Linked DNA regions of Homo sapiens. The protein of the gene in region 2 purifies or fractionates together with the protein of the main gene of each other region. This does not show direct contact. Each region holds a gene or a part of one and is shown on either strand. Other genes may lie near its edges.

Region 1 (4,706 bases), on a different chromosome or scaffold from region 2:
CCAGGCTGGAGTGCAGTGGTGTGATCTGGGCTCACTGCAACCTTCACCTCCCAGGTTCAAGCAATTCTCCTGCCTCAGCCTCCCAAGTAGCTGGGACTACAGGCACCCACCACCACACCCAGCTAATTTTTGTATTTTTTAGTAGAGATGGGGTTTCACTATGTTGGCCAGGCTGGTCTCAAACTCCTGACCTCGGGTGATCCACCCACCTCAGTCTCCCAAAGTGCTGGGATTACAGGCATGACCCCGGCCCACAGTTTCAATCTTTTAATACCTTAAATATTTAAGTTACTAAAATAGCTAAGAAAAATTGTTCATTTTAAGTGCTAATTATTCCCTTTTCTTTTTTCTATTATTAAATATGTATTTTATGAATAAAAAGTTAATGTTTTTAACTAGGAATTAAAATGTACTTCTGATTTTTAGGTTTGTTTTGTGCCAGTTGTCATTTTTCATACACACACACACACACACACACACACACACACGCACACACCCCACCATCAACACCACCACCACCGTCGTTTCTGTAAACCAATCAACAGTGGAGACACTAGAGACTATTATATGAAAACTGTTTATTCTATAGCCTACTGGGAATTGGCCAGAAGTTAGAAGGACATTGGAAATGACTTTTAAATCTCCATTTGAGAAAAAGCATGCCATGAGTCTAAATAACCAATTTCATTTAGCAAACAAAATACAAGTAAACAAAACACAACTTCTCTGATGAATGAAGTGGTTACCATATTTTTTCCCATTGTGTAAAGATAGTTCTCATATGAAATATATCACCTAAGCAGTAGTAATCAGAATATTCTGCAAACTTATTGGGGGTAATTTAAACCCCAAATCGGAAGAATAGAATAAAAGACATAAAAGTCTTTCTTCAAAAGAAAAACAAAACAAAACAAAAAACAATACCCCTTCGGTGTCAAATGATACAGAAATGGCACTGGTTTCCTATATGTTGACTGAGATACTTTTTACTGCATAGCAAATTAAAAAGATATGCTCATCCCACTTTTATTTTTATGCACTACTTTTAGTTCTGCAGAAATAAAAGCTATACTGAATTTAAAACTTTTTACACACATAATCCTGTGCAAACTATGTAATACTTTGTTTGTAGGATATTAACCCAACTTTCTAATATATTTTGTATATGTCTCTTTTTGTTTATTTGAGACAAAGTCTCACTCTGTCACCCAGGCTGGAGTGCAGTGGTGCAATCACAGCTCACTGCAGCTTCGACCTCCTGGGCACAGGTGATCTCACTTCAGCTTCCCGAGTAGCTGGGACCACAGGCGTGCACCACCAGGCCTGGCTAACTTTTTGTATTTTTTTTTTTTTTTTTGTAGAGACGAGGTTTTACCATGTTGCCCATGTGGGATATTTTGTATACATTTCAAAAGGCAACTACAAAAATTGGTTTTTCATATTTCTACAAATATTTTATGGAATGTTTAATATCTTGTAAATGTGGAAGCTGTGACAAATTTTTGTATTTAGAAAGTATGACAATCTGAAAATCAACATTTTACAGAAGTGACACCATTCTGTTGAAACTGGAGTATACTGCACTTATATATCATTATTTCTAATATACACCTAGTTATTAGAGAAATTAGTGCACTAAAGGACAGTGGTGGTTTTTAAAAATGATTTCTTCACTGTGGCAAGTTTGTCCTCCTCTGTCCAAAGCAACAATTGAACCAACAGGCCCTTCTAATCTTATGCCAGCAACACAATGGGATCGAGGCCAGGTTCTTGTGCAATTTGTGAAACCTTTGGTTTGCAGAGTTGTTAGCGTAGTGGCTCGGCTCATCAGCTCTGAGCATTTGAATATCTAATGTTTCAAACTGTTAGTCCTGTTCTGATTTATATTCATCCCTGCCATTCCTATTAACTTAATTACACCTGCCCACAACTTAATTTACTTGCCTTTGTTACTACAGTTTGAACTCCAGCTACATTTTTCTAAGAAATTAAATTGCTAGGTTTTTATAGCTGACTGCACTCTTAGAACTTCTCTACAGACTTTATGATCTTTTTGGACTTTACTTTTTAGCACATCTTAGGAACTATTATGAAGTTTTCTCGCAGCACACTTGAAGTTAAATAGCTTTTTCCAAGTTTAATACAGTTTGATGGCTCTTCTCGGGGTGTAGATGAGTGGGGGCACTTACATTGCCCGTTGGAGGAGACTCTGCCTTCTGCTCAGCCAAAAATCAGTGTGAATCCCTTTGACTGTTCCATCTTTCCCCATATCAAACCTAAATTATTGATCTTCCACCTGTTCTCATTTCTTCTGTCCTGTCTCTTGTTGAGTCACAACAGCTGTTCCCCATGCTCTGCGTGGTAACATTCCACATGGTACTCCATAAAAGCCTGATATAGATGACCTCTCTATAACAGAACTGCAATTATTCTTGTCATGCTTCAGTTGTTTCTGTGGCTCTCCTCTGGACTCTCTCCAAATTCTCCTGCTCAGTTTTAGCAAGCTGGCCTGGAGTTCTCTCACACGGTCTGGCTAGCACAGTAATTTGCTTGTGGTTAAAAGCCTTTGTGCTCAGTACTGAGACTGCCACATAATGAATTTTCATTTCCATTTTATTCTGAACTTGCAAACATCAGAGATTCGTGCTATCTTCAGTGTTTAAGTGGTAATGCCTTTTGTAAAATAAAGGAGGCTGCAGGCCAGGCACCGTGGCTCATGCCTGTAATCCCAAAGCTTTGTGAGGTGGAGGCGGGCAGATCACTTGAGGTCAGGAGTTCGAGACCAGCCTGGCCAACATGGCGAAACCCCATCTCTGCTAAAAATAGAAAAATTAGCCAGGCGTGATGGTGCATGCCTGTAATCTCAGCTACTTGGGAGTTGAGGAATGAGCACTGTTTGAACCCAGGAGACGGAGGTTGCAGTGAGCAGAGCCGAGATCGCACCACTGCACTCTAGTCGGGGTGACAGAGTGAGACTCCATCTCAAAAATTAAAAAAAAAAAAAAAAAAAGCCTGTGGTTATTTTGATGGGATAGCAAGGATAACATGAACCATGTAAGGTTTGGCATAAATAGTTCATAGTTGACCTGGTCTGTCTGACTGTCTGAGATGTCACTGAGTCATTTGATGACCTTGAAATGCTAAAGCATTGGAATGAATGTCTGTAGATCAGGACAGAGGTGGGTTCAGAGAACTATTTAGGAGACATCTGGGTGGGAGTTGTGGCCAACACTGATTACAGGTGAGCACTGGGGAAAAAAGCCAGGATTGCAAGGAGTTAAAGATCACCCATTCAAGAAGTTTGGCAGAAGGAGCAAGACAGGAAATTTATTCATTTAGTGGCAGTCAGAGGTAACAATATAAGAAAAGCATTCTGAGTCTTCTTTTAGGCAAACTGAAATTTGCCATTAGAGAAGGGAGTTCTTTGTTTTTCGTTTGTTTTAGGGACTATTTAAAAAATAAGAACATTTGTGTCTTATTAGTTAAGGCAGCACTATCCAATAGAATTTTCTGTGATGATGGAAACAGTCTACATCTGTGCTATCTGGTATGGTGCTATAAGCCACATGTAGCTATTTAAATTTAAATTTAATTAGTGTGGCTACTGAGCAATTGAAATGTGGCTAGTATATCTGAGTTGAATTTTGATTAATTAAAATTAAAATTTAAATTTAAATAGCTACATGTGGCTAGAGGCTACTGCATTAGACAGCTCAGAGTTCGAGTTTTACTAACTAGACTTGCAGATTAATCTCAAAATATTAATGTCTTAAAACAATAAAAGTGTATTATTCAACTATCACATCCAAACCAATTGGTGCTAGGGTGTAGGGAGGGGAGCATTCTGCTCTGCCTAGTCATTTGGAACACTGGCTCCTTCTATCTTGTGTGGTGCCATCTTCAACCTTGAAGGGTGCATGTTGGAGGGGAAGAGATAGAATATGAAGAATCTCTTGAGAAGTGTTATGGGCCATGTCTGGAAATGGCCTACATTACTTCAACCCATATACCCATATTCTAATAGTTACAAATAAATGACATGGCTCTACCTAACTGCAGGCTGAAAGAAAAGGAACAAGGTTTATGGACACATAACATTACCCTGCCACAATGAAATTTGTAGAGGTCTGGGATCAGTCTCTAATACCTCCTCCATAAGGAAATGGAAATAAATTTTAATCAGTGTGCTAAGGGAGTAAATCTGGTACAGTTCTGGATGTGAGGAAGAGACTGAAGGATCAAAGTGGGGCAATGGGGGTTCAACATGGGGCAGGGATCAGGAGGAAGAGATGGAATAAATAATAGAGGACAGAAAACAGTTGGTATTTGCTGATGGAGAACCACTTCTCGGAAAGAGAAACAAAAAGAAAGTGTGAGAATAGAAATTTTGAGGTGAAAAGGAGAGAAATTCAAGGTTCTTAGATTGAATCACTTTGTCTGCTCTGAGGTTATTTGCTTATTATGACAAGCCTGGGAAGACGTTTGGGTAGGTGCTTAAAATTAGAAGAAAAGACCCGAACAGGTACTGTAAAGAGTGCCTTGGGCATGCGCTGTAGAATTTGGAAGGCATTTGTTTCAGACTAATCTGGTAATCCAGATATTTCACAGAAAGTGTCATGTAAATTCAAATAGGTATCTTCTTTTTCTCTTGATAAATATTCCTGTGGTAAGCCATGGAGTTCTGTTAATCTTCTGTTTGACCAAAT
Region 2 (7,744 bases):
CTTATACTCCATCGGGGTATGAATCTTTCCTGTGAAAACAAAGTGGGAAAAGGAGTGTCAGCCACAGGCCAAGCCCAAGGGAACTCAGACCAGTGTCTAACCCCCTTAGGAACATCATGTAACCCAGACTCCCATCTCCCATTCCCACATCAGTAAACTTTTAAATTGTCTCTGGGGGCAAGGGACAAAAGAGAATAATGTAGTTAAAGCCAGAAACATTTCATCTATTGCATTTTCTGTGTGTGTGTGTGTGTGTGTGTGTGCGTGTGTGAGAGACACAGGGTCTCACTCTGTCGCCCAGGCTGGAGTGCAGTGGCACGACCTGGGCTCACTGCAACCTCTGCCTCCCAGGTTCAAGCAATTCTCCTGCCTCAGCCTCCCCAGTAGCTGGGATTACAGGCATGTGCCACCACACCTGGCTAATTTTTTGTATTTTTAGTAGAGGCAGTGTCTCACCATGTTGGCCAGGCTGGTCTCAAACTCCTGACCTCAAGTGATCCACCCGCCCCGGCCTTAATGCTTTATTTTTAGTCAACATATTTAATTTATGTTGAAACTTCAAAACGGAGAACAGATTTTTTCTATTTATCAAAAAAGAGCCTGGGTTTAACAACAAGTTGAAAAACAATGCTAGCAGATCTGTGATCTTTTTATCTGTGCCTTCTCCTTATTTGACATTTTTTAACCCAACACCTACTGATGAATATCAATTATATGTCAGGCAATAAGGATAACAACTAAAACCATACAACTCCTGCCCTTGAGAAGCAAACGGTACACTGGGAAAGACAGAAAATATGAAAGACATGATAAGTACCATGGGAAACTTGCATAGCAACACAAAGAGGAAATCCTCTCCAGTAATATCAGGATACAGCACAGAAGAGCTGGCACTTCAGCCATGCCTTGAGCCCCAGAACCTATGTATGTGACCTTATTTGGGAAAAGAGGCTTTGCAGATGTAATTAAGTTAAGGATCTTGAGAAAAAATCGTCCCATCCAGGGCTAAATATTTGAGGAGAAAAATGATACCGAGACAGAGAGGGAAGAAAACCACAGATATTGGAGTGATGCATCTACAAGTCAAAAAACAGCAAGAGCCACCAGAAGAGGCAAGAAAGGTTTCTCCCCTAAACCTTCAGAGGGAGCAGGGCCCTGCCAACACCTTAATTTCAGACTGATGGCCTCCAGCACTGTGAGAGAATACATTTCTGTTAATGATAAGCCACCAGGTTCATGGTAGTGTGTTACGGCAGCTATGGGAAACTAATACAGTGAATGAGTGAGAAGGACTCTAACAGGTAGCACCAAAGAAAGAACGTTCTGGGTGGAGGGAACAATATAAGTCAGGTAGTACATATTTGGAATCTAACACACAATCTAGTGTGATTGAAGCACAGAACAAGAGTTGTGGAACCAAGGCAGAAAATTAAGGGCCAACTTATAAAGTACTGACTTTCCTATGGTAAGGCTGGGCCTGGAAAATCAGGCTGTTCTTTCCAAGAAGAGATATGGAAGATGAACTATAGGGGCAGAACTAGAAGCCAAAAAAATCAAATGAGGAGATTAAAGCGCGGAAGACAAAAGAAAAGGGGCAGCTAGGCACGGTGGCTCACGCCTATAATCGCAGCAGTTTGGGATGCAGAGGTGGGTGGATCACTTGAGGTCAAGAGTTCGAGACCAGCCTGGCCAACATGGTAAAACCCTCTCTCTACTAAAAATACAAAAATTAGCCTGGGCATGGTGGCTCACACTTGTAATCCCAGCACTGTGGGAGGCCAAGGCGGGCAGATCACAAGGTCAGGAGTTCGAGACCAGCCTGACCAACATGGTGAAACCCCATCTCTACTAAAAATACAAAAATTAGCCAGGCATGGTGGCACGCTCCTGTAATACCAGCCAGCTACTCAGGAGGCTGAGGCAGGAGAATCACTTGAACCCGGGAGGCAGAGGTTGCAGTGAGCTGAGATGGCAACATTGCACTCCAGCCTGGGCGACAGAGCGAGACTCTGTCTTAAAACAAAACAAACACAAAAATTAGCTGGGTGTGGTGGTGCACACCTGTAGTCGCAGCTACTCAGGAGGCTGAGGCAGGAGAATTGCTTGAACCAGGGACGGGGAGGTTGCAGTGAGCCGAGATCGCGCCACTGCACTCCAGCCTGGGCGACAGAGCAAGAAGAAACAAAGAGGAAGGAAGGGAGGGGAAAAAAAAAAAAAGAAAAGGGGCAGCTAAAAGTGGTATTCCAGAAATGCAATGAATAAGATTTGATGACAGTTGATGTAGCCTCAGGACAGACTCAGAACCCCTGGAACTTTTCTGCATAGACAGCTGACATGATCTCTCAACTCCTGGGCTCCCAATGGGAAGGAACAAATGTCCAAATACCAATGGTGGTTGCCCTGGAGTTAATATAATTGCATAGCATGTGGGGAGAAGGGCTTAATAAACATTTGGTCATTTGATTTTAAATGGCACATGGACAAGTGGCAAGAGGGCACACATACCAATGATGGCCACTTTGTTCTCCTTCATGGAACTCAGCACCTGCTCCAGCTTCTCCTCAGATGCCATATTCTGCACCTCACTCAGGTGGTGCTCCTGGAACTCCACTGGGACAGCGGCAGCCTTCAGAGACAGGTTCCCAAAACATCACAGTCAAGGCCAAGTCCTTTCCAACACACTACTGTCCTCTACTGTCTGATCCCCGAGGCCACTCACCTTGAACACCTCCTTGACGGCGTGCATCAGCTCAGGCCCCACACCGTCTCCCGGAAGCATGGTCACGGGAAAGGAGCCCTCCACCCTCACGTCCTCGGCCTCAATTGGGGGAAGAGGGGAGAAGTAAAGATAGAGCTGGGGCGGGAGCACGGATCCTGGGAGTAGAGAAGTAGGGAGACCCGGGAGGGGTGGGGAAAAGCCAGGGGAGGGAGCAGCGAGGAAGGGACAGGGTCGTAAGAGAGACCCCAGCCAGATTCGTGCATACCTGGCTCCGCGATGCAGCGTGCGCCGCGGCCGAGGTACTCAGACCTCTCCATGCCCCAGGGTTCCCGGCGGAGACCAGCGCCTGCAACAGGGACACACAAGCCTGTAAGGTCAGCTTTGAGACATCCAGACCCCGAACACTACAGTTGACTTTGCCCTGTTTAGGAAACCCTAGGACAAACTCTCCGCTCCTTCGCCCGCCCCTGCCCGACATGTCCCGGGGCCTCACTCGGGTCAGCCAGCGGACTCCGCTCAATGCCGCCATGTTTCCCGCAGGAAGTCGCGTGGGAAGTGACGCCTGAAGCTGGCGCGGCCCCGTACCCCGACTTCCGGCCTGTACTGAGTTCCTGGTATTTCTCTCTCTGCGCCAACCAGCACTGCTTGCTCACGCCTGTTTCTCCTTTTCCTTGCCGGTGGGGAGGTCATGGGATGCGCAAGCACTTTGTCTCTTGCTTTGTTTTCAGTCGCCATATTTAATCTACGTCGAAACTTCAAAATAACATTAGGGGGAAAAATGTAGCGTCATGTTTATCAGACGAGGACCTGAGCTTAACAAGCGATTGAGAGAAAATCCTTGGGAAGCTGTTAAAATTTGTGTGTCAATGCGTTTGTTATTCTTTTAACCAGTACTCACTGAATACCTGTATGTCAGGCTCTCGAGGAATACAGTACAGACATGGGAGGTGTGTGTCGGGTTTCTCCGCCAGTCTCCGAGAGTGCCCAGGACCTCTGTATTACCCGTCGCCTCGTAGTTTTTTCTTACAGGGTTTTGTTCTTTGCTCTGACAGTTATTTCCCTAATAGTGTGTCCCGGACTTGAACTCCCCAGGACAGGCCCATAACTAGTGTCAGAAATGAGTTCAAGCGTGTAAGTGTGACTAAAGGGAATTTCAGACTGATCCTTAAAGTAACAATCATAAAAACTAAAAAAAGCCTGGACAACATAGGGAGACCTCGACTCTACAAAAAATTTAAAAATTAGCCAGGCGTGGTGACACACCTGTAGTCCCAGCTACTTAGGAGGCTGAGGTGGGAGGATCACTTAAGCCCGGGAGGTGGAAGCCGTAGTGAGCCGTGATGGCACCACTGCACTCCAGCCTGGGAGACGGGGCGAGACCCGTCTCAAAACAATTACAGTCACGATTTTTTTTTTTTTTTTTTTGAGACAGAGTCTCGCTCTGTCGCCCAGGCTGGAGTGCGGTGGTGCGATCTCGGCTCACTGCAAGCTCCGCCTCCTGGGTTCACCCCATTCTCCTGCCTCAGCCTCCCGAGTAGCGCCCGCCATCACACCTGGCTAATTTTTTTTTTTTTTTTTTTTTTTTTTTGTATTTTTAGTGGAGACGGGGTTTCACCGTGGTCTCGATCTCCTGACGTCGTGATCCGCCCGCCTCGGCCTCCCAAAGTGCTGGGATTACAGGCGTGAGCCACCAAGCCCGGCCTCCAGTCACGATTTTAGGTGTGTACAATTGACACACCTAAAGACAAACTGGTACAGGAAGATTTGCCTCACCCGCTCTTCTGGAAGTATGGTTTTGGATCACCTATCCAGATGGACCAGAGCTCTTGTTAAAAGTGCAGGCTTGTGAGTCATACTTCATTTGCTGAATCCAAATCTCAGTGATGGGGGCCCAGAAAATATATCTCTAACAGGCTCCCCGTTAATACACACTGAAATTTAAGAACCACTAGCTAGGTTCTCTGTGATAAGTTCCTCCTTCGTATATACCTCAACCAGCCAAAAAGGTGGCAACGCAAAGGCATTCCCAGTGCTTCTATTCTTGGGGAATATGCATAGGCTTTGTGCCTCCTCTGCAATCCTTTAGGTGCGACATTCTCCTATATAGTAGTAGGATGAGAAGATTAAACTAGGTAATGTGTAAGAGTTTTGAACAAATGAAAAGTACTGGGTAAATATAGAGCTGTTATTATAGCTAATATAATATTAGTATAACACACTCCTCTATTTCCATTCATATATCCCATGAAACCAACCAAAACCAGAGAGCACCACCGTCTTGCTCCCATAGACTCCCTCGTCCCAGCTTCCACATCACTATTAATATTCGTCACTATTTTTCTTCTCCAAATATTTCTCCTTCTGACTAAGAAAAAAATGGAAGATTTATAACCTCTGCCTCCCGGGTTCAAGCGATTTTCCTGCCTCCGCCTCCCTGGTAGCTGGGATTACAGGCACGCGCCACCACACCCGGCTAATTTTTGTATTTTTATTAGAGACAGGGTTTCACCATGTTGGCCAGGCTGGTCTTGAGCTCCTGACCTCAGGTGATCTGCCACCCTCAGCCTCCCAAAGTGCTGGGATTACAGGCATGAGCCACCGCACCCCGCCAAATTTACTCTTTTTAAAAAACTACATTTTCTGTTACGTCAGGAAATGTGGGATAAGAAAGAAGAGAGATGTACCATCTTAATCCAATCTCTGATAATAATCTAATTTTCTTGAGGGTGACTACATCATTTCCATCCCTAAATTCTGCACAGACTTGTTCCCCACCTAACACTCAAAAAATATCTGCTAACTGATAAAACACTAAGTGGCCATCACCAGGGTGAAAGGAACTGATGGAGGTTACCAGTGGACACAGGCCAAGGAGATGAGACCATTATTGTCTGAAGGCCACTGTGTTCTCCCCATGAACTCAGCAAGCTCTCCTGGCCTTCAAGTCCCCATGAGGGCATCTTTGACCAATACTGCCTGATAATGGAGAAATCCTGTCAGGACCTTTGAAAAGTTTCTTAACCTATCTCCTGGGGGATGGGAGGGAGGTTATACCATCTTGTTCTCTTCTAACTGTTGTGGAGTCTCCTCTGCTTAGCACAAGAGGCTATAATGATGGATGAGCTGCCTACACTTGAGTGTTCAGTGTGAAGCTGAGTGACTTGAATGTCTGCTTCCCAGGCCTGCAAATCCTCCAGCACAGGAGTCCTGACTTGGGATCTACAGAACCCCCTAGGTGTCCATGAATAGGAATCAGCACTGTGAACCTGGATGGGGGAAAAACCAAAAATCACATCTTTATTCTCACTAACCTCTAACTGAAGTTTAGCATTTCCTTTCATTATGAATGCAGGTCACAGATTACAGTGCTGCCTGTAGTACTCTTGACTTTGTCAATCATAAAAAGTATAGATATTTTCATACCACATTTTAGTTGTAGTAGATCTCTCAAAATATCACTTACTTTAATCCTATTTTTACATTATTTGACCCAATGCTAGATTGTGTTATTTAATGAATTAATAAAGCAGCAAACATAGTAGTATGTTACAAGGTAGCTTTTATTCCTTTTCTCCTTTTAGAGAGATGGTTTCAGTCTGTTCCCCAGGCTAGGGTGTGATCACGGCTCACTGTAACCTCAAACTCCTGGGCTCAGGTGATCCTCCCACCTCAGCCTCCCAAGTAGCTGGGACTACAGGCATGCGCCACCATGCCTAGCTAATTTTTAAATATTTTGTAGACATGAGGTCTTGCTATGTCGCCCAGGCTTGTCTTAATCATATTTGTCTTGTAATTCTATTTATTTTATATACTTAAAAGTCTCTTTTTTTTTTTTTTTTTGGAGACAGAGTCGCTCTGTTGCCCAGGCTGAAGAGCAGTGGGCGATCTCAGCTGAGTGCAAGCTCCACCTCCCGGGTTCACACCATTCTCCTGCCTCAGCCTCCGGAGTAGCTGGGACTACAGGCGCCCGCCACCACGCCCAGCTAATCTTTTTGTATTTTTAGTAGAGACAGGGTTTCACCGTGTTAGCCAGGATAGTCTCGATCTCTTGACCTCGTGATCCACCCGCCTCGGCCTCCCAAAGTGCTGGGATTACAGGCATGAGCCACTGCACCCGGCCTAAAAGCCTCTTCTAAGAAAGGTTCCACAGGCTTCACCAGCCTTCCAAAGAGGTCCGCTGCACACAAAAGTTTCAGAATTTCTGGTGTATTAGGCCTACTGGATCTTTTTCTGAAACCATGAACAATCAAAAGAGTAATATAACCAATGACAATTCCTTGAAAATTAACGTCTGAAAAAGCTTCTTGGGAGAATTTGATCTGTGATTGAAAGGATAAACAGAATTACAGAGGAGAAGTGATTACACTCAGGGAAAATGGAAATGTAAGCAAAGCTACTGTTTCAGATCAACTGCCCTAGAAGCAGAGCCCAAGACAGGGATTCTATGCAATTGACCTGTTGAAGGAGTGCTCTCAGGAGAAACACATCAGAAGGTGAATGAGCAGAATATGGAGGGGAAGGAGCTCAGCAAGATGTGGCCTCAGCCAGAGTCCACCTCAGCCCCATCTCCTGGGGAGCTCTGGAGCATTAGTGACAACTCAAGGTTGTCATGATTTGAGACAAGGCTTAACAACCCTGCTTTGCCCCTGCATGGCATAGGCCAGGGCCAATCCTTCAGAGAAGGGGGAAGCTTTGAGCCGTTAGTGGCAAATACCTGAAGCAACTGGGGGAATGGATACACCAGCTTGCCAAGAGGACCTGGCCAAGGCAGACACTACCTTGCGGAGGTGACAGTGAACATAGCGTGCTGACGAACAGTGAGGTGGGCAGATATATTTGAGGAGATGAGTTATAGTGAGGATTGGTGAGTAAGTAGGACTGGTGCATGTTCAAGGTCCGAGAGAAACAGAGAGAGTTTTGTGAGCAATACTAAGCACCCTGTTGAGGTTGGTGACCATGAAGTTTATTGTGGTGCAATTGTGTGTGATTTCACGGTGAGAGCAAACCAAAAGTGAGTTCATCCAA

The links.
Region 1: the proteins of IDH3B (region 2) and DBT purify together in Homo sapiens (affinity purification with mass spectrometry; 3 studies listed by BioGRID and IntAct, with this or other methods). This does not show direct contact.

The regions. Positions count from the first base shown.
Region 1 is NC_000001.11:100,186,361-100,191,066, forward strand, and holds the end of DBT (lipoamide acyltransferase component of branched-chain alpha-keto acid dehydrogenase complex, mitochondrial isoform 1 precursor), read right to left. Parts: 3' UTR 559-4,706; downstream 1-558. UniProt on the Homo sapiens protein: The branched-chain alpha-keto dehydrogenase complex catalyzes the overall conversion of alpha-keto acids to acyl-CoA and CO(2).
Region 2 is NC_000020.11:2,660,941-2,668,684, forward strand, and holds the start of IDH3B (isocitrate dehydrogenase [NAD] subunit beta, mitochondrial isoform a precursor), read right to left. Parts: upstream 3,277-7,744; 5' UTR 3,249-3,276; coding exon 3,213-3,248; intron 3,066-3,212; coding exon 2,985-3,065; intron 2,819-2,984; coding exon 2,720-2,818; intron 2,627-2,719; coding exon 2,506-2,626; intron 30-2,505; coding exon 1-29. UniProt on the Homo sapiens protein: Plays a structural role to facilitate the assembly and ensure the full activity of the enzyme catalyzing the decarboxylation of isocitrate (ICT) into alpha-ketoglutarate.